Homo sapiens: one gene and its partners. The protein of the gene in region 5 purifies or fractionates together with the protein of the main gene of each other region. This does not show direct contact. Each region holds a gene or a part of one and is shown on either strand. Other genes may lie near its edges.

Region 1 (4,092 bases), on a different chromosome or scaffold from region 5:
TTTCTTAAAAGGGAAAACTCCCTTCTCAAGCCTCCCAACACAAAATGTTCCTTAAGCCTTGCCCATCCCATCATTTGGACTCTGTAATAAGGCCCCAGGTTTGCACTCCCAAGACAGGATACCAAAGGCATCTCAGCTGCTGTTCTGGGCCCTTTAAAGAGCTTTTATCTTCCAATTAGCCGAGTCCTTAGCATCATCAAATGACAGGGCTTCTTGGCAGTTGCAGCCCTTTATGGAATGAATGGCACCCTCCCTTCTCCTGCATCCATGCAGTTTTCATGTTAAACTAGGTTGGAAATACTGGTGGGGAAGAGCTTGCTGTCAGGAAGACATTGGAACAGGCTAATCTTGCCAAGCTCAACCTCTCATTAATCACCTGTAGGAGAGGGTTCCTTTTACATGTCTTTATTGGAAATGGCATATGGAACATTTTTTGCTTGGCTGTGTTCACTCAAATTATGATTATTGCACCCTCGCCCTCACATCCCACCATCTCCATGCCTGTTGAGAGAAGAAGTCAACAGGGTTCTTGCCATTCCTGAGATATGGCAATTTAGCTTGGGAACAGATGCTGTTTGCCCCCTAAGTCAAGGTGACTTTGTGGGCAAACTGTTTCTTGGCCAGGGGATGTGTCCATGCTGGTCTTTGTCACCATTTCTCAGATTGGGGTTGGCCCAGTGCCCTTACTCACAAATAGCAGACCTGGCTGGTAGAAGCTGCACCCCTGGAAGCACCACATGAATTTGCATGGCACTAACACCACCACTCAAGGGACCCAGACCAGCTCTTCAGGCTGACTTTGGCTACAGATACATTGTGAAGAAATGTATCTGTTGTGGAGCTGGAGAATGAAAGAGGGTGAGGAAGGCCCTCCTTACCCCAAGCACAGCATTCCAAGAGAGAAGTGCCCAAATTCCAACTTTCTGGCCTCTTACCAAAGCTGCTCTGGGATGGTGGGGCTGAAATTGGCCTGGCTATTTGGCAGGAAGTAAACACTCACCAAATGCCTTTACAACAGGGAAGAACCCACCTCTTGCCTCTTCTTTCAGGGCAGCTTGAGCTCCTGTCTACATGTGGACTGTGCCAGCCACAGCAGGCGGTAGAGCCATCACCAGCCTCCAGACCCTGCTGGAGAAGGGCCACCAGCCTATCTGGGAAGAGAAAAAGGAGGTGGCCAACCTTTGGCTAAGGGCTGAGAGCTGCCCTCAGGATCAGGAAGGCAGCATGAGGCATTGTCTCTGAGGGGCACTGGCATAGCCCTGACACACTTTGTTGGGCTTTGGAAGGTCACACACCACAGAGTAGGGCCTGGGGCTGAGTGAGAGTTCATGGTTTGGACAGCCTTGCTGCCTGCAAGTCCCTTCACTGCCCTAGCCAGCCCAGGAATAGGATCCTTACCACCTGAAGTGGGGCAGCCAGGATATGTGGCTGCAGAAGCAGGTTCCTTTGAATTTCTAGAGCTAAGCAGTTTGTGGCTGAAACCCAATGGCAGCCTAGGGGAGGAAGGAAGACCTGTCTGGGGACCCATGGTGTTGACAGCACAGGGTGACATTGGGAGAGCCAGCCAAGCTTCAGGCCTGTTTCCAAACACAGACTAGTGCTGGCTTGGGTGGCAGCAAATACACCCCAGACCACTAAAACTGTTGATATCATGTCCACACCTCCAAGAGTACTACTAGATGAACAACATGTCTCCATTGCAAGGTCCTGGAATAATGCTTTTGGATGTGATTTTAAGGGAAAATGGGACTTAGTGGAAGTAGCTGCCTTCATCTTATTACCCAATAGGCCTAGTGCCAGACAGCTGTGATCCTGAGAATTCCCAGATGAGACTGGTCCTTGGAGGACCAGTGAATGTGGATAGAGAAGGCCACCTAGTAGGCCTCTCCCAGGGCCAGGATGCCAGTTTCTTGGTGCTTTAGAGTCTCCAAGGAAGCACTGCCTTGGGGCCCAGTTCAAGCCAGCCCTACCTATCTGGCCTCAGCTTGGGTACCAGGCCACAAGACTGCCCGGATAATGGGTTCAGTAAACACCAGTCTCTCTCCCTCCTTAGTCCTATGCCAAGAAGGGAAGTAGCTTCACACACTCAGGAGGCTGGGTGTGTACCCTTCATCCTGCTGCCAGCAGCTTTCCTTACCTGTGCCAGTGCCACCACCCCACCTGCCCTCAGCCCCCAGGCCCAGTTGCTAGAGGGAGGCATGGGGTTTAGCAGGGAGACTTCAAGTTTACCCATGTGTATGTTGCATTCAAGTTGTTTTTAATATATATATATATATATATCAAAAGTCAATTATCTATTTTTATATTGTTTGCATTTTATATTCATGGAAAACAATGTTTATCAATTGTTCTTTTCTGATTTATTTTTAAGCGGTGCTGTTTACAGTTTTAAACAAAACAAAGATGACACAAAAATTGCTGCTGCTTGTGCAGAGGGCTGGCATCTCAACTGCCTAGGGCCCTCCCTCTTTCCCCTCTCCCTACCTTAGCTGTACCACACTGTCCGTTCCCTCCCCCCATGATAGGGACAGCAGAAGATGCCCAGGTACTGAAGACAAACGCCAAGTGACTCAGGCGTGTGGGACCTGGTAGACAGCTTGTCATTTTCTGGCTTTATTTTATGTTTTTCTTTCTTTTGAACCCTTCTTCCCCATGTCTAGACCCTCTGAGAGTACTCATGTGTCTTATTTTTTTTCCTCGTTATGTTTTGTGCTTTAGTTTTGAAATCAGAGTGCCCATGTTGTGCTATTTGTCTTGTTGAGTTTCTCCAAAGGAGCATTTTGGGAACATTCTCCACCCAATGGGGAAGGAAGGGGGTTTCAACCATGTCCCCTTTCCCCAAGAAGCTGTGGGAGACAGATGACAATGATGCTTGCACTATCAGGAATTTACCATCTCGTTGAGGAAACCCTTGCATAGGACTTCCTAGGAGCTCAGTTGATTGTGACATTTTCCCAGAAGAGAGGCTTTGGGGAACTCCTTCACCCCTCTTGCTGCTTTGGGGGAATCTCCTCCCCTACCACCATTCCCCCTCCCCTGCCCTGCTCCAGCTCACACGTGGATGGTACTTTGGGGAACAGTGACTTTCAGGGTGATGGCTTGCTGGCCTGATCCCTGACTTTCCAATCCTATAGTCACTCCAAAGAAGAAAATCCACATGGTATGTATATGTGTGAGGGTTGGGTCTATTGAGAGGTGGGACTTTAATTATTGTTATTATTATTGGTGCTTATTTTTCCTGCTGTATATGGGGGTGGGGGTGGGGGGGAATAAAACAGGAATGTATATTTAGGTCATGTTAAATAAAATGGCTGGAGGAAGGAGGGAAGAAATTAGGAACTGCAGTACATCATCACCCCAGGTGTAAGAGTTATTTCTCTCCCAGTGCAGAAAGGGGAGTGTGGCCCCTGGCTGTACCTGAGCTTCCTCTTCTCCATCCCTGAGACATCACAGAATCACCCGGGTTCTGACCTCTCCACTTCTAGCTCTCACTGACATCTGGATATCTTGATGCACTGCCTGTTTGTAACAACATATACTTCTTTGCTGAATGCTAATAAACTTCTGGGTTCAAGAGGGAACCCCTCAGTCACTAATGTGCATTCTTGTGGTTTGTTCCACAGTAGTGTGCCTGTAACCCATGGTTGTTGGGATTGCCCTTGGAGAGAAATTGAGAAACCAAGGAGGTGGTGGGTGGAGGTGGAGTAGGGAGAACCAGCAGGGGAAACAGAAGCCAGGGCTGAAATTGAAAGTAGAGGAAATTGCAGTTTTTCATCCAAGCCATGCCTTATATCCCAGTCAGATGCCATATTGGCAAACTCTCTATCACACCTTCTATGCCTTAAGACCTGCCCCTTAAGTCCCTGTGCACTGCCAGGGGCTGGCTAGCACTTCTAAAATTAGCCTCAATTTCTGCAAGTATGTGGCCTCCCTACCAGCCAGGAGACAAATGTGTGTACCTCCTGCTGATGGCTCAATCAAAAGGTTATATCTAATGGTGGGACCGGCAGGCCAAGCTGCAGGAATGGCATCTTTTATCCGGGACTATGGGCAGAGATGCTGGCCAGATAGCTGCCTGCCCCACCTATTCAG
Region 2 (3,500 bases), on a different chromosome or scaffold from region 5:
TCTGCCTCCCAAAGTGTTGGGATTACAGACATGAGCCACTGCACCAGGACCAATAAATGAATTCTTAATGAGACTTGGACCTGGAAATCTCTAATATTTTATGTCTGGTGACATATATAGACTATATTCTTGGTGCTTTTAGTTTAGAATCATTATTTTATTCTGACTCTTATACTACTAGATGGTTATTGCTATGTGATTTAGTAGATAAACTTTTAAATGACACTGCTACATAAAGAAACACTAAAACAATAAAGATAATTTAATATTTGTTGTTAAAAAAAAACTTTTTGAAATGTGTGTTGTTTACATACATAAACAGAAAGGCATATTAAATATCCCAGCATTCCTTCATACATCCTTATGGCTGGTTGCTACTGCCTGTGTTTTTATTCACACAGCTTCCTTTATATCAGTGGTCCCCAACCTTTTTGACACCAGCGACCAGTTTTGTGGAAGACAGTTTTTCTGTGGACCCAGAAGTTGGGGCAGGGTATGGTGGAGAGATGGTTTTGGGATGAAACTTTTCCATCTCAGATCATCAAGCATTAGATTCTCATAAGGAGTGCACAACTTAGATCCCTTGTATTTGCAGTTCATGATAGAGTTTGCAGTCCTTTGAGAATCTAATGCCAACGCTGATCTGACAGGAGGCAGAGCCCAGGCAGTAATGCTCCCTTAACACACTGCGCACCTCCTGCCATGCGTCTGGGTTCCTAACAGGCCAGGGACCTGTACAGGTTTGGGCCTGGGGGTTTGGGACCCCTGTTTTAGATGACAAAAATATATAAAAGTATCATACCCCATACATTTTCCTTATTCAGTCGGATATTGGAAATCATTACGCCTGGTATCAGCTATTCTGGATATTCTATTTTGATGCTTCATCAAAACTCTACAAATGTTAGTTTCTTAAAGATAGTTGCATTATTGATTCTGAAACTGCATCAGTGAATCTGTTGTTACATTAAAATTCACTGGTCTATCTTGGACTTTTTACCCAGTGGTCTGTCTTGGACTTTTTACCCAGGTGTGATTTTGTAACATTCATTGGTTATTTAGAAAATATGGTTCACTGAATTACACAGATCTCCCAAATGTTGAAACACTTCATTATGTAATATTTTAAAAATCACATTTATTAATATCACATCTAATCTCATTTAAAAAAATCTAAGTGTTGGGAATCAGTTAAGCTCACAGTGGTGGGTACTTATCTTCCAAAATTCTAATTTTTCTCTTGAAAGCTTGGTTTTTATCCTTGACAGCAAATATCGTTAAGTATTTTCCTTGAAATAACATGTAAATGTTTGGCAAATACCCAAATCTGAATAATCATAGGTTGTCTGTTTTTCTTTCAAGAATAAAATGGCATTCCATGAAAAATAAATTGATTTTTAAACTCACAACTTAAATAATTGTACAGGTCCTTTCCTTGAGATAACCATTGTGGTTTGGTACACAACAAAAATGCTTTATATGCAAATCTCATTTTGTCACACAGGATACTAGACAGATGTGTACTTGATGGGAATTTAATAAAATTAATTTTTCTGTGCCATTGGTAAAAATTATTTTTATTTTATTTTATTTTATTTTATTTTATTTTATTTTATTTTATTTTACTGCCAGTGTATGGTGGTGAGGCATACAGTGCACCTTGTACTTACTGAGCACTAATAGTACTTTTTGGTGCCATTAGTTTGGTACCAAGGTGCTAGCAGTTTTACACACCATTGCTTTTGTACCATTAGTGCAATGTTGCTATTATTAAAAGGCTAGAAAAGTGTTTATTATGTTATTTTGAAAAATAGTTGTTTTGAAAAATAACTAGTGTTGTTATTAAAAAAAAAAGTAGTTTTGACTACGTGGGACCTCTGGAAAGACCATTGGGATTTTGATTGACATGATGTTAAATTTATAATTAATTGGAGAGAGCTACACATTTACAATATTGAGTTTTCCTATATAGGAACATAGTATGTTCTTTCATTTATTCAATTATTCACTAAAATTTTATATTTTCTTATAAATATTGCGTATTTTAAGTTTATTCTGAAGTATTTTCAGCTTTTTGCCATTATAAATAGGACTTTTTTGAGGTATATTTTCTAATTGGTTATTGTAGGTATAGGAAAAGTTGATTTTTGTGTGTTTACCTTGTTTACAAATAAAAAGTTTTTCAATTGAATATATATATATATTTTTTTCCACTGAGACACAGTCTTATTCTGTCGCCCAGGCTGGAGTACAGTGGTGTCATGGCAGCTCACTGCAACCTCCACCTCCTGGGTTCAAGTGATTCTCTTGCCACAGCCTCCCAAGTAGCTGGGATTATAGGCGCACGCCACCATGACTGGCTATTTTTTCTATTTTTAGTGGAGACAGAGTTTCACTGTGTTTGCCAGGCTGGTTTTGAATTCCTGGCCTCAAGTGATCCTCTTGCCACGGCCTCCCAAAGTGCTGGGATTACAGGCTTGAGCTACTGCTCCTGGCTCTCTTGAATTTTTTTAGGTAGACAGGTCATCTTTAAATTACAATTCGTTTTTCTTAATTTGTTTGTTTGTTTCCTTATTGCACTGGTTGAGACCTCTAATTAGTGACAAATAGTAGAGATATTGGACATCTTTGTCTTGTTCTGACTTGAGTGGGAATATTTAGTATTTTCCCAGTAGGTTTAATTTTTAAGGTTTTTGATGCTTTTTAAAAAAATCTAAGGAAATTTTTTATTGCCTTATATTGCTTATATATTGAGGGTTTAAAAATAATAATGTATTTAAGTCATCAAATGTGTTTTTTCTTTTATTTTGTTAACGTGGTAGATTATATTAATATAGCTCCTATTATTTATTGAACCATCATCTTTCCATTCCTGGAATGAGATCTGTTTGGTTACAATGAAAATCTGATAGAATTTTTTGCAACTTTTCTCCTTTTAATTTGTATTTAAATATGTATTCATAGCTGTGATTGGCCTTAAGTCTTTTTTCTTCTGATTTGGATTTCAGGGTTGTGCCACTGATAAATAATTTCAGTCTCTTTCAGTGTTCTGATGTAGACTAAATTCTAAAGTAATTTTTTGCTGCTTGTACATTTGATAAAATTTACCTGTTAAATCATCTAATTCTGGTGGCATTTATTTGGGGGTAGACATGTGCACATTTTTAATTTATCTTACAGTGTTTTTATTAACTAAGGAAATCTTATGGTGGCATGGGTCATCTGTTTCGTTTTACTGTTGTAGCCTTAGCACCATGCTAGTCATATAAAAGATGCCCAGAAAATTCGTTGAATGAATCCTTATAAGGTTGAATAGTGCTTTTACTTTGCTAAAGTTTTATTTGAACTGTGTTAATATTTTTCTTCTTCTTTTTGTTTTTTCTCCTTAAAGTTCCACTCTTGTCCTGGGGACCCAGCTTTAACTTTAGCATCTGGTATGTTGAACTTAGTGGCATTGATGATCCTGATATAGTACAACCTTGTCTCAACTGGTATAGCAA
Region 3 (3,500 bases), on a different chromosome or scaffold from region 5:
CAATCAACAAATGTTTACTGAGCATCTACCATGGACCAGGCCCTAGTCTGGGCACTGAGGGGGAGAAAGGACAAGACTACATTCCAGCCATCGAGCAGCTCACAGACCAATGGAGGAGGCTGACGTGGACAGGCTGTTACTGTGCTGCAGTAGCTGAGGACTCGATGGGTGTGGTGTGGCCACTCTTGCCAGGTTATGAAGCAGAAAAGGAGGCAGGGAGATTTCACTGAGGGCTCAAGGGGAGGTGATAATTTAACTACAGCTTACGTACTCTATACAAAGAAGTGCAGAGGGCACTCTAAAAATGGGAACAACTTGTGCAAAGGAAGCAAATACATTATTGCAAAGGGTTTATATGTCAACCATGGTAGTGTTGGGCAAAAGGTAACAGGATCTGCTATGTGTTTCGGAGGGTCATCCTGGTGGATAATTTCTGTATATGTGAGACCTTGGGGAGGAAGGCTTAGGACCAGTGGACATGAAATTTCAATCTATTAATCATGAAGTTTGTCAAAGACAAACACAATTCCTTGCGCCTGGTGAAGATGACTGACTGATTCAGGCAGAGTGGCTTGCTCTAGACAGACTGAATTAACCTCCTGCATTTTTTGGATAGAATACCCACGAACAGTTCTGTTTTCTCAGTTCATTTATTTTACTTTTAAAAATTTGGCCAGGTGATTTGGCTCACACCTGTAATCCCAGTGCTTTGGGAGGCCAAGGCAGGTGGATCACTTGAGGCTAGGAGTTCGAGACCAGCCTGGCCAAAATGGCGAAACCCCGTCTTTACTAAAAATACAAAAATGAAAAAAAAAAAAAGCCAGGTGTGGTGGTGCACCTGTAATCCCAGCTACTTGGGAGACCAAGGCATAAGAATTGCTTGGACCCGGGAGGTGGAGGTTGCCAGTGAGCCAAGATAGCACCACTGTATTCCAGCCTGGGCAACAGAGCGAGACCGTCTACAAAAAAAAAAAAAAAATTACTGAGTTAATCACACTCCTCAGTTCATGATACATTTAACTGGTCCATGCAGGGCCTTTTTCTCCTTTGTATTTATATTCCCTTTTGTCCCTATTCTTCCCCTCTCTTCTCACCACAGGAAACCATTCTGATGTGTTTGGTGTATATCTTCTTTTTGTTTTTTGTTTTTTTGAGACAGGGTCTCACTCTTGCTCAGGCTGGAATGCAGTGGCATAATCATGGCTGACTGCAGCCTTGACCTCCCGGGCTCAAGCAGTCCTCCGTCCCACCTCAGCCTTCTGAGGAGCTGGGACCACAGGCGTGTGCCACCATGCCCAGGTAAATTTGCCGTGTTGCCCAAGCTAGTCTCAAACTCCTGAGCTCAGCAGTCTGCCTGCCTTGACCTCCCAAAATGCTGAGATTACAGGTGTGAGCCACTGCTCCCAGCCTATATGCATATACTTTTAATTTACATAAATGGATTCTGCCTAGACCTCATTTTTTTCCACCTCAGTGCCATGTGTGGAGCTTGTCGATGTTGCTCTGGGTATATTTGGGATGCAGTTTCTAAATGCTCCACAGGTTTCCATAGATGCATCCCCCACATTTTACTTACTTGATTCCTCTAGTGATGAGGTCCCTAGATTGTTTCCCACTCCTTGCTACAATGCAATCCCGTACCCATCTCCTTCCTCAGCTTTGTAAATAGAATTTTATCGCTTCTCAGCCTTTTCGCTGAGATCAAGTGTAGTAAATACAATTTCAAGATGCTGATTTGAGCTTGGCTTTGATAAGCCTGGTAGCTCTTGGTGTCTGACAGGGCCGGATTGTTTGACCTTCGTGAGGTCCTGGCTTTTTTGAGCCATGTTTATTTTTGATAAATTGTGATTCTAGTTCCCAGACACTCTTGGCCAACATTCTAGTGTCCTGCCATCTTCCCCAGTTGATCATTCTCACGAGCTCTGTGGTTAATTTTCTGTTTCTCATCATCATTAATGGTTGCTGTACACTCATTCCAACACAGATATTTGCTCTTTCCTTTCCTGGTGAAACAGTGGCCTGTGAAGCTGGTCCTGGGAGTACCTGTGATGTGAAGTACGTAGAGAAGGACTCTGAGGCCAGAGCCAGACTGTCTGGCTTCAGTTCAGTTCCCAGCTCCTCCACTTCCCAGACGCCTGACCTTGGGCAACTGATTTAATCTTTGTGTCTCATTTTCTCATCTGCAAAGTGGGTCTAATCATTGTACCTACCTCATAGTGTTTTCGTGAGCATTAGGTAAATGAATTAATGTATGCAAAGTCATTAGAACGGTGCCTGGCACATAACAGGCTCCTATTTGGAATGTCAGCTGTTAATAATAGCAATAATAATAATTACGTCATTTCAGATAGGAGACCCTGTTATATTTTGCCATAATGGGTCACATTCAGTTGCAGGGTGTTTGTTCAGAGGGGATGGTGGGGGGTGGGTGGCATAGCTTCTGGACTCTCTGACTATAGATTCCAGCGTAATAGCATTAGCTGTAAGGAAAAAGGGAAGAAACACAGCCCCCAAGGCCCTGGGTGCCTTTTCACTGTCACTTGTTGCCTGTCAGGTTGGGAGACAGTGGCTACAGATGGGTCAAGGTGCTGAGGCCGGGACTCATGCTGGTGGGAATGAGGGAATGAGTGAAGAGAGCCTGTGAAACTGGGAGGATCTTGGTGGTCACCTTGGACATAGGATTCTCTTTCTCTTTGATGTTCCTCTGTACCCTTCTTGAGAATGGGCATTGGGCTAGATCAGCTCTGTCACTGACATTCTGAGGTTTGCCCACGTGTTCAGTGTCAAAGGCTGCTCTGAAATGGAAAGGAGCAGTGGCCCAGGGTAGAAAGGACACAGAAGGAAGCCCCAGTGGTAGGGAGAGGAGATAGGACAAGAAAAGTCAACTTTCTTTCAATGGTATAATGAGGAGGGAAGGTTGTGTTGCAGCAAGAGAGGTTCTGGTCTGGTGGGGGAGGCAGGCCCAGTGACCAAAACTGAAATAGAAGGGTGCAAAGTGAGAGTAGAGGGAGCTAGGTGGGCACAGGCTAGAGACAGCTGCTGAAGACGCTGACGTCTGAGCTAACTCAGAAGTGATGGGCCAGCCTCTCAAGTAGTCGAGGAGGTAAGGGTGATGGAGAGCAGGCCAGGTGAGGAAGCAGCATGTACCAGGGCACGCAGCTATGAGACAGCAAGGGTTCTGTGCCTGTCCTCGGGTGTGCGGCGGGTGAGGGTGAGGCAGGAGTGCTGGGCAAGTCCGTCAGGCCAGCATGGTTGGCAGTTATTCCCCAAGCTGTGTTTCCAAATATCAGCCACTCAAGGACGGCCTTTATGGTTTATGTTACTATAGTACGTAGAAAAGCAGTTCCTCTAACTGTAAGAATGTGGCCATAATAACTCTATGAAAATACACGGGCCGGGCATGGTGGCTTATGCCTATAATCCCAGCACTTTGAGAGGCCAAGGTGGAAAGATCGTTTGAGCCCAGGAGTTTGAGACCAGCCAGGGCAACACAGAGAGAC
Region 4 (3,500 bases), on a different chromosome or scaffold from region 5:
CCCTAGAGGTTCAGTGTTCTGCATTGCGAGACTAGCCCTAGGTTTAGAAACCTAGTGACATAGGCTTGCTGTACAGAACAGTATGCAGTGTGTCAGCTGACACTGGTGTTGGTTTCACGATCCGAAGGAAATGGAATATAATTGCCGTCCTTGTCACACCTTGAGCATTATGGTAAGCAGGTGCTTTCTGGTGCAACTGTTTGTGGTTGAACAGTGTTTATGACTAATATCTGCCATCGTTTTTAAGAGTGTTTTTAAAGGAAAGGGCAACTCTTGTCTGGCCTATTTTTCTATCTTCCTATTAAAACCTGTGGTATGACGTGGACAGAATGTAACTCTAGATGTTTACAATTAACTGTTTTCATTGTAATCTGTTTCTTGCTACTCAAACTGTGTAACCGTGGGATTTCTTATGTAGGATATCTATAATATTTGTGCTGAGTCATTTTGAGTTAAGTGAATGGGGTAAAGTTCTATTTTTAGCCCGTCAAGGCCTAGTGAGGGCACTGGCTTAGCAGAACTCTCCATCACGCGCATCTGTTTGGGTTATGCCCACCAATAAGGACTTGATTCCAGTTTAAATAGGACTTTGGTCACTGAATAAATCTAAAGTTTCTGAGAAATACATTGACTTTTTTTGTCCACTGTAAAAAAATTTTTTTTTCTTCCTGTGAGAAATTGAGACTCTTAAAAGTTAAAGTCTACTAATGAAAGATTATTTGCTTGTGCCTGTTTTCTACATTCATTTTTCTTTAAAGGTTGACTCTTATTTTTACCCTCCCAAATCCAGACTCTTCTATGTACTCTCCTTAAATTTTAAACTCCCAAGCTTTGTATAGAAGTCGATAATCTGGTCCAGATGCTGAAAAGAAGACAAAGCTTTCACATTTGCAATATTGGCTTCATTTTCTGGACTTCTGTTGTTTTAATCATGAGTGTTCATGTTTCTTTAAAACAGAAAAAAAAAAAATCACCTTGTTTTCTTCAGGGTGTGAGCTCCTAGAGAACTAAGATGAGGTTTTGTGATTTTCCTTTGTTTTAAGTCTGGTATAAGATCTCGCTCACATAAATATTTAATACTCTTTTTGATGGTGACTGACTTTTGGTCGTATGATGGACATTTAGGCCCTTAAATCTGCCCCATGAGCAAGATGACACACCTTTGGAAAAACAGAAGCTATTCTGGGAGGTACATGAATATGTTCACATTTTATCACTAAGTTTCATTTAATATGCCTTATTAGTAATAAGCATGTATACCAATTTGTATCTACAAACCTATAATTTTTAAACTGTAGTATTCACGTAAATATTGGTAAGATATTTATTTTGGAATGTGGATGATTTGTAAAACCTGTGTATTAAAACAAAAGTATACAAATACCTGATTTGTACATACCTGGCTGTAACCTAATGTGTCTTTTTGTTGTCATGCAGAGCTCTGGTATCGAGACTTTAGTGGAGGAGCTCTGCTCCAGACTGAAAGACCTTCAGAGTAAGCAAGGTGAGGTCAAAAGCACTGTGCGCACACATGCCAGGATTACATCCCTGAGGAATCTGGATTGGGGAAAATCTTAGAATTGATCAGAAAAGAAAACAACCAGAACAAAGTCTTTGTGTCCAGTGTGTGTCACTAGGCCAGCCTCATGCTCCATCTGCAGCTCTGTTAGTGGCTTCTGTGTCAGACCCAGCAGTCACTCATAGAGATTCCTGCAACCAAGGGAGGGACTTAGTCCACAGGTGCCCTCAGAGATAGGAAACACTTCATGGTTTTCTGTTTTTTGGGTTTTTTTAATTGTTGTTGGCTTCAAGTTGAAGCTCAGAGATCAGGAACAATATTGTCTCTTTCCTTTCCCCATCCTTGCCCCTCTGTTAATATCTGCCTGTTGATGTTAAGACTGCTAAATTACGACATTAAATTAAGATGTTAAGACATGAATTACTTCAGGTTTGGAAGGGACTTCTGTTTTGACTCAGCTTTTTTGAAAACACAGACTTGGCAAGCTTATTTAGTTATTTCGATATATGAATCCTCCTCATACTTTTTCTAACTTGTTTGCAATCCCTAAGAACGAGACCTTCATATTAAGGGTGAGGATCCTTGTTTCCTTGCCCTCTTTATGGTCATTTTGCTGCCCACCAAGCCTTGAGCCTGCCTCTTAAGGGCACAGTTGATTTGTAACCTAAGGCAGTATCCTAGGCTAAACTAAGGGATAGCCCTTTTTCCTGTTTCAGTTGAAATAGCCCTTGCTCACCTACATGTTAAGTAATAGAGCAAATTGTAATAAAGAATATTCTTTACAGATTAGTTTTGGTCAAGATGAGTCAATGTAAAGTCTATGAGTGTAGAATTTTGTGAGAAAATAGTTTTGGAATCTAAACAGATGTTCTGTCCTTCTGGTCTAATTAATAAGTACACAGGGGACTTCAGTCTCTTAATTAAGTGCCTCTAGAGCACTGTATCAGTGACGAGATGAACAACTCTCACCTCTTGGCCTAATGCTAATGTGGTTTAATCGGAGAATTCCCTCTGGCACACTGAAAAAATAGATTTTTATTAAAAAGATCGGTATTGAGTTTGCCTTTTAAGCACCAAAGTCTCTATTTCTTGTTAAAATTAGTTGAGAAACTTTGAAATACATTAGCATTTATTAACTAGATATAAGACAAATCTTTCTTAATTTTTGTTTCATAACAGAAGAGAAGATTCACAAAAAGTTAGAGGGGTCTCCCTCTCCAGAGGCAGAATTATCCCCTCCAGCAAAGGATCAAGTGGAAATGTATGTAAGATTGTATTCGGTAATAAAGTGTGCATTTGTTAAAATCAGATGAATAACTGCTACATGGTTTCCGTTTTCTGTTTGTCATCTTGTTTAGTTTCATTATATATAATGTAAGAAACATTTATCGAGCGCTTATATGCTTGACACTGAGAATTCAAAGGTGAAACAAGATGGTTCTGTCCTTGGTGTTCATATTCAATATTTGTGGAACAAATGAGTGAAACATAGAAGGTTATTATTTGCTAAGTCTATGTATGTACTATTACCTTTAATATTCACAACAGCCCTTTGAGACAGCTGTGAGAAATTAGGATTATCAGCCGGGCACAGTGGCTCATGTCAGTAATCCCAGCACTTTGGGAAGCCAAGGCAGGTGGATCACCTGAGGTCAGGAGTTTGAGACCAGCCTGGTCAACATGGTGAAACCCAGTCTCAAATATTAGTTGAGCATGGTGGTACATGCCTGTAATCCCAGCTACTCAGGAGACCGAGGCAGGAGAATTTCTGGAACCCGGGAGGCAGAGGTTGCAGTGAGCTGAGACTGTGCCATTGCACTCCAGCCTGGACGACAGAGCGAGACTCTGTCTTATTAAAAAAAAAAAAAAAAAAAAAAACAAGAAAGAAAAGAAATGATTATCCATGTTCACAAGCAAGAACACTGAGTTCCCACTGTTTACTGCAGAGGGAACATAGGCAATCCTTGACCTGCCAAACCTG
Region 5 (2,179 bases):
GCTTCAGGCTGGCCACAGGCAGGTCCTGAACCTGCGTGGGGAGCTGGAGCAACTCAAGGCTGGTGTGGCCAAGGTGGCCAGTGGGCTGAGCCGCTGCCAGGACACAGCCCAGAAACTTCAGCACACAGTGGGACACTTTGACCAGCGGGTGGCACAAGTGGAGGGTGCGTGCAGGAGGCTGGGCCTGCTGGCCGCGGGCCTGGACAGCTTGCCCACTGAGCCACTGAGGCCCAGAGAGGGCCTGTGGAGCCATGTGGACCAGCTGAATCGTACGCTGGCCCAGCACACGCAGGACATTGCCCGCCTCCGGGATGACCTACTGGACTGCCAGGCCCAGCTGGCTGAGCAGGTGCGGCCAGGGCAAGCCAACTAGACAGGCTGGCCAGGACCCAACCCCTAGATCCCACCAACTCGGGGAACATCACCCCAGAGCCCAGCCTTATCCAGCAGCGCCTTCCAGCCTTCCCTGGCTAGCCCAAATGGCACTAAGGAGGCCACTGAGGGAATCCTCCACGTGGCTGTCCCAGCCACCAAAACCCATGCACAGTGCTGCAGAAACTGGACAGTTCCGGACAGCGGTCAAGGCAAGGATGTCATGCTTGAAGGCCAGGGTAGACTTGAGAGAGTTCACATTCCACTGTCAGCAAATCAGTGTCTGGACAGCCAGCTGCAGGGCCTGAGCATGGCTGGCAGGGGCAGCTGCTGTGGCAAACTGGCCTTGATCAGTGTCCGTATGTAAGGCCTTGAGAGGACCCTGCAGGCAGTCAGCACCAGCCTCAGCAACTGTGCAGAGACCTACAGGCCCACAGCCAGTGGCCTGTCCGCATTGCCCTGTGCCCACAAGCAACAGTCCACAGCCCTTGGTGGCTTCTGTTCCTTGTCCCCTCGGCTTCTCTTCGCAGCCATCAGGACTAGGTTTGTGCAGGAAGGTGATGCCCACTGGAACTCTCCTCACACCTGGCAGCTTCATGGATGTTGTATCTGAACTAAGGACCAGAGGCTGCCAGATGTTTCTGGCTCCTCACGTGTCCTTCAGGACAGAACAGAAGCACAAAGACTCAGCCAAGAGTTCTCTTTATTCCCTTTGATCCTCCCCCAAGGTGAGGGCTTAGGCAGCTGTAGAACCCCAGGAAAGAACGGAATCCAGGCAATCTGTTTAGAGACCCCCCACTCCAAATTTATCCTTTTCCTTTCCTTCCCCTAAGATGTTTCCAGGGCCCTCTGGTGCCCACACTGTCCTCTTCCTTCCACTTGGGGGTGGGGAAATCCTTCCTGCGAGGTCAGGGCATTTCTCTACAAAGTGGCCTGAATGAGGCCAGGCCCTGAGAAGGAGCCACCAGCTGGAGGAAAGGGGCTCCAAGCCTTGCTTTTAACACCCCTGCAAAACCCCCACCCTCCCAAGATGTTCACAAAAGGTGAGAAATTCAGGTACGAAACCATCAATGGACAACTTGAAAATGCATGTTCCTCAGGCCTATGCAGTTCCCAGAGACTCTTGACACCGGTCTCTGCTGAGGCTCCCAGCCTCAGTTTCCCCCACAGCAGCACGGGCCCCACTGTGCTGCTCTTCAGGTCCCCACAGCCCTGCCTTTGGTTCCTGGACATTTGGTATTCTGCCCTCCACTCTGGTACTATCAGAGTAGGGCAGGCTCTGGATTAAAGCTTTTAGCCGGTCTAAAGCTACTTTCTTCAAAGACAGTGGGAGGAGAGGTTGCTGGGGCATCAGCCCTGCTTCCCACAGCTCCTTAGGCAAGAGCTTACCCAGCAGCTGTGAGCACCAAGCTGGCCAGCAGAGGCTGGGGGAGGACTTTCAGGCCAACACCTGCCCCAGCTGAGTTTGGGACTGTCCTTAAGCGAGGTCTGGAGAGAGGCAGCGGCAGCAGCCGGACGGGGAGCAGGCCAAGCCGGAACCACAGCCTGCAGGTGTGGGTGTGTGTCATGTGCTGAGATGCCAGGGCACCAGCAAGGGGGATATGTTGGCAGTGATGTCTGGCTTCGGAGGGTACAGTCCTGGCTCCCAGACAAGGGGCGGGGAGAACACTGTGTCCTTCCAGAGGCTGTACCACACTCCCACTGCTGTCACCCTTCACTGAAGCCTCGAGCCTCGGTAGGGCCTCCCTCTTCTCCCTGTCCTATCAAGACTTACAGCAAGGTCCCAGGTTGACAGGGAGACAGATAT
Region 6 (3,500 bases), on a different chromosome or scaffold from region 5:
AAAATTAGCAAGGTGTTGGGGGCGGTCCCAGCTACTTGGGAGGCAGAGGAGGGAGGATCGCTGGAGTCTGGGGGGGTCAAGGCTGCAGTGAGCCGTGATTGTGACACTGCACTCCAGCCTGGGTGACAGAGCAAGATCCTGTCTCGAAAAACAAAGAAAAAAACGACTATTGGGGTCACACTGGCCATGCGCTCCACGTGGCATAGAGCTGCAGCGGAAACTGAGAGCAGTGCTTCTAGTTTTCAAGAAAATCAGGGGGTCTCATGAAAACACAGATTGAGGCCCAATCCCAGAGTTTCTGATTCTGCAGGTCTGGATGGGGCCTGAGAATCTGCATCGCTAACAGTTCCCAAGGGAGGTGAACTGCTTTAAGAACTGTGCTTCAGGCTGGGCACGGTGGCTCATGCCTGTAATTCCAGCACTTTGGGAAGCCGAGGCAGGTGTATCACCTGAGGTCAGGAGTTCAAGACCAGCCTGACCAACATGGTGAAACCCCATCTCTACTAAAAATACAAAAAATTAGCTGGGCATGGTGGCAGGCACCTGTAATCCCAGCTACTCAGGAGGCTGAGGCAGGCAAATTGCTTTAACCAGGGAGGCGGAGGTTGCAGCAAGCTGAGATTGCACCATTGCACTCCAGCCTGAGCGACAGAGCAAGACTCCATCTCAAAAAATAAAATAAAATAAAAAACAACAACAAAAACCGTGCTTTAGAGGAGTCCAGGACTCTGGTGTGGACCCTCTCCTCTCATACCCCAGTGTTCCTGGCTGTGACTCTTTGTGTGGCCAGAGGCTCTGGCGGCAAGCACCTTATGGGTCCATCCTCCTGCCCCTTAAACACCCCGTGGTGTGAGGATGGAGAACAGAAAGACCCCTGTATCCACTTCACTTCCTTTCCAGAATTCTTGCCAACGCAGCCCCCAACAAGGAAGATGTTAACCAGTAGAGCACCTCCTACGACACTGCCGAATGGAAAAAGTACGTAAGCATAATGTGGGCACCACCTGGGTTTTGGGAGAGGAGTCTCTCACACCCTACCCTAGGCAGTGGGAAGACAGGGATTACAAATTGAAGATGTAAAGTTAGAGAAAATGGCTGGGCATGGTGGCTCACACCTGTAATCCCAGCACTTTGGGAGGCCGAGGCCAGCGGATCACTTGAGGTTGGGAGCTCCAGACCAGACTGGCCAACATGGTGAAACCCTGTCTCTACAAAAAATACAAAAATTAGCCAGGCGTGGTGGCATATTCCTGTAGTCCCAGCTACTTGGGAGGCTGAGGCAGGGGGATCACTTGAACCCGGGAGGCAGAGGTTGCAGTAAGATCATGCCACTGTACTCTAGCCTGGGGGACACAGTGAGACCCTGTCTCAAAAAAAAAAAAAAAAAATAGAAAATGAATGGGCGGTGAGACTGGAGCTTAATCTCACAGGAAGGTCAGATGAGCCCAAGAATGATGATCATGACTAGAAGAAGAAAATGAAAAGTGCTCTAAAAGAGGGACAGTGAAAGAGGCAAAGAAGTCCAGAGGTGGAAGAGGGTCCCGTTCCTCAGGAGATCAGGGAAGGCTTCCTGGAGGAAGAGGTGTGGGGCTGTATCTTGAGGATGTCATTTGCAGTAGATGAGAAGGCAGCACGTCCCAGGCTGCCAGGAGACAGGGAGCAGGGTAGGGGGGTTGGTTTTAGGCAGAAATGATACTATGATCCCACAAGCTACCCCCAGTCTGGACCAAGGAGGCGGTACCCTGGGCAGCGGGGTGAGCAGATGCCCAAGGGTTGTAGATCCTGGGACACCGGGCTGCCCTTGCGGTGCGGACGGGGGCAGAGGCCAGTGGGAGATGCGCCCTGACCCCCGCCCCCATCCCCAGGTGAGGGCAGCGTACGCCTGGTAGGGGGCGCGAACCTGTGTCAGGGCCGAGTGGAGATCCTGCACAGTGGCCTGTGGGGCACCGTGTGTGACGACGACTGGGGGCTGCCGGATGCCGCTGTGGTCTGTCGTCAGCTGGGCTGCGGGGCGGCCATGGCCGCCACCACCAACGCCTTCTTCGGCTATGGCACCGGACACATCCTGCTGGACAACGTGCACTGCGAAGGCGGCGAGCCCCGCCTGGCAGCCTGCCAGAGCCTGGGCTGGGGTGTGCACAACTGCGGCCACCACGAGGACGCGGGCGCGCTCTGCGCAGGTGCGGGCTCTAGGGGCGATGGGCGGGGCCGGGGCAGGTGGGCGGGGCCCTGTGGCAATGCTGGAGGAGGAGGCTTCGGTGGGGAGGTGGATGGGGAGGGTGTTTTGGCTGTCTTGATGCTCCCCAGAGCTCTCCAGGCAGCATCCAAAATTACTTCTATCTCAGTCCTGTTCTAGAAGTGCCTCCGAATATCCCAGAACTCCTTGTGGTACACTCCATGGCTATGAAACAATATTGCACTAATCCAGTCTGGCCAACATGGCAAAAATTAGCCGGGCGTGGTGGTGCATGCTTGTAATCCCAGAGACTCGGGAGGCTGAGGCAGGAGAATCGCTTGAACCCAGGAGGTGGAGGTTGCAGTGAGCCGAGCTGACGCCACTGCACTCCAGCCAGGGTGACAGAGACAGACTCCATCTCAAAACAAACAAACAAAAAAACTGTACTATTGCTTCACCAATACTCGAGAATTCTATAGCAATATCCCAAGAATGCCTCCAGAATGTTCCAGCAAGTACTGTTCCTGGACCACTTTAGAGTAACACTCTAGGATAACACTCGGAGTAACACTCTAGAATTGCCCCAGAGATATTCCAGCATTCTCTGATGCTCACAGCATTACCTAGCACACCCCTCTGTCATCCTGATGCTCTAATAATAGTATTTTCTCCCCACCTAGGCCCTCTCCAATTTGGGAGGGTTTCTCAGCAAAGAGGAATAATAGGGCCAATAATGCTATTTCACAGATGGACTCTGCTCTGTAAGAGATAAAGTGGTTGCCCACAACTCATAACTCATAGCAAACTAAGGGCTATCATTCCCAGTGTATAGGTGGGAAAGCTGAGGCCCAGAGAGTCAGAGCCTTGCCCATGGTCACACAGTTAATGCAAGGCAGGCAAGCCCCCAAATCGAGGCTTAGTCCAGGAGGGTTTTTGGCTTCCCTCAGCAAAGAATTTAAGGGCCAGCTGGTGTTAGCAGCTTTCATTGACGCGGCAATGCACAGCAGCAGCAGAGGTCCTGCTCCTTGCTGAGCAGGGCTACCCCATAGGCAGTGTGCCCAGAGTAGCAGCTGAGAGGCAGGTCTGCAGTCGTAATTCTATTTACTTTCAAGTATATGCAAATTAGGGGGTGGATTATGCAGATATTTTAAGAACTAGAATAGTAATTTTTGGGTTGTCTGCGTTGCCATGGAAAGGTAACTCCAGGTGTTGCCACGGCAATGGTAAACTGACATGGCATACGAGTGGGCGTATCTCATGGAGAGGCACTCCCACCCCATCCCTGTTTTAGCTAGTCCTCAATTTGGCCCGGTATCTGAGCTCC

Evidence for each region.
Region 1: the proteins of EMILIN3 (region 5) and AMER1 purify together in Homo sapiens (co-immunoprecipitation; one large-scale study listed by IntAct). This does not show direct contact.
Region 2: the proteins of EMILIN3 (region 5) and MKLN1 purify together in Homo sapiens (co-immunoprecipitation; 2 studies listed by BioGRID and IntAct, with this or other methods). This does not show direct contact.
Region 3: the proteins of EMILIN3 (region 5) and RMND5B purify together in Homo sapiens (affinity purification with mass spectrometry; one large-scale study listed by BioGRID and IntAct). This does not show direct contact.
Region 4: the proteins of EMILIN3 (region 5) and KIAA0232 purify together in Homo sapiens (co-immunoprecipitation; one large-scale study listed by IntAct). This does not show direct contact.
Region 6: the proteins of EMILIN3 (region 5) and SSC4D purify together in Homo sapiens (co-immunoprecipitation; one large-scale study listed by IntAct). This does not show direct contact.

The regions. Positions count from the first base shown.
Region 1 is NC_000023.11:64,184,617-64,188,708, reverse strand, and holds the end of AMER1 (APC membrane recruitment protein 1), read left to right. Parts: 3' UTR 1-3,592; downstream 3,593-4,092. UniProt on the Homo sapiens protein: Regulator of the canonical Wnt signaling pathway.
Region 2 is NC_000007.14:131,393,876-131,397,375, forward strand, and holds part of MKLN1 (muskelin), read left to right. Parts: intron 1-3,391; coding exon 3,392-3,500. UniProt on the Homo sapiens protein: Component of the CTLH E3 ubiquitin-protein ligase complex that selectively accepts ubiquitin from UBE2H and mediates ubiquitination and subsequent proteasomal degradation of the transcription factor HBP1.
Region 3 is NC_000005.10:178,134,014-178,137,513, forward strand, and holds part of RMND5B (E3 ubiquitin-protein transferase RMND5B), read left to right. Parts: intron 1-1,156; exon of another isoform or gene 1,157-1,199; coding exon of another isoform or gene 1,200-1,299; intron 1,300-3,500. UniProt on the Homo sapiens protein: Core component of the CTLH E3 ubiquitin-protein ligase complex that selectively accepts ubiquitin from UBE2H and mediates ubiquitination and subsequent proteasomal degradation of the transcription factor HBP1.
Region 4 is NC_000004.12:6,855,727-6,859,226, forward strand, and holds part of KIAA0232 (uncharacterized protein KIAA0232), read left to right. Parts: intron 1-74; exon of another isoform or gene 75-130; coding exon of another isoform or gene 131-172; intron 173-1,437; coding exon 1,438-1,504; intron 1,505-2,698; coding exon 2,699-2,780; intron 2,781-3,500.
Region 5 is NC_000020.11:41,359,462-41,361,640, reverse strand, and holds the end of EMILIN3 (EMILIN-3 precursor), read left to right. Parts: coding exon 1-373; 3' UTR 374-1,679; downstream 1,680-2,179.
Region 6 is NC_000007.14:76,396,198-76,399,697, reverse strand, and holds part of SSC4D (scavenger receptor cysteine-rich domain-containing group B protein precursor), read left to right. Parts: intron 1-900; coding exon 901-978; intron 979-1,865; coding exon 1,866-2,180; intron 2,181-3,500.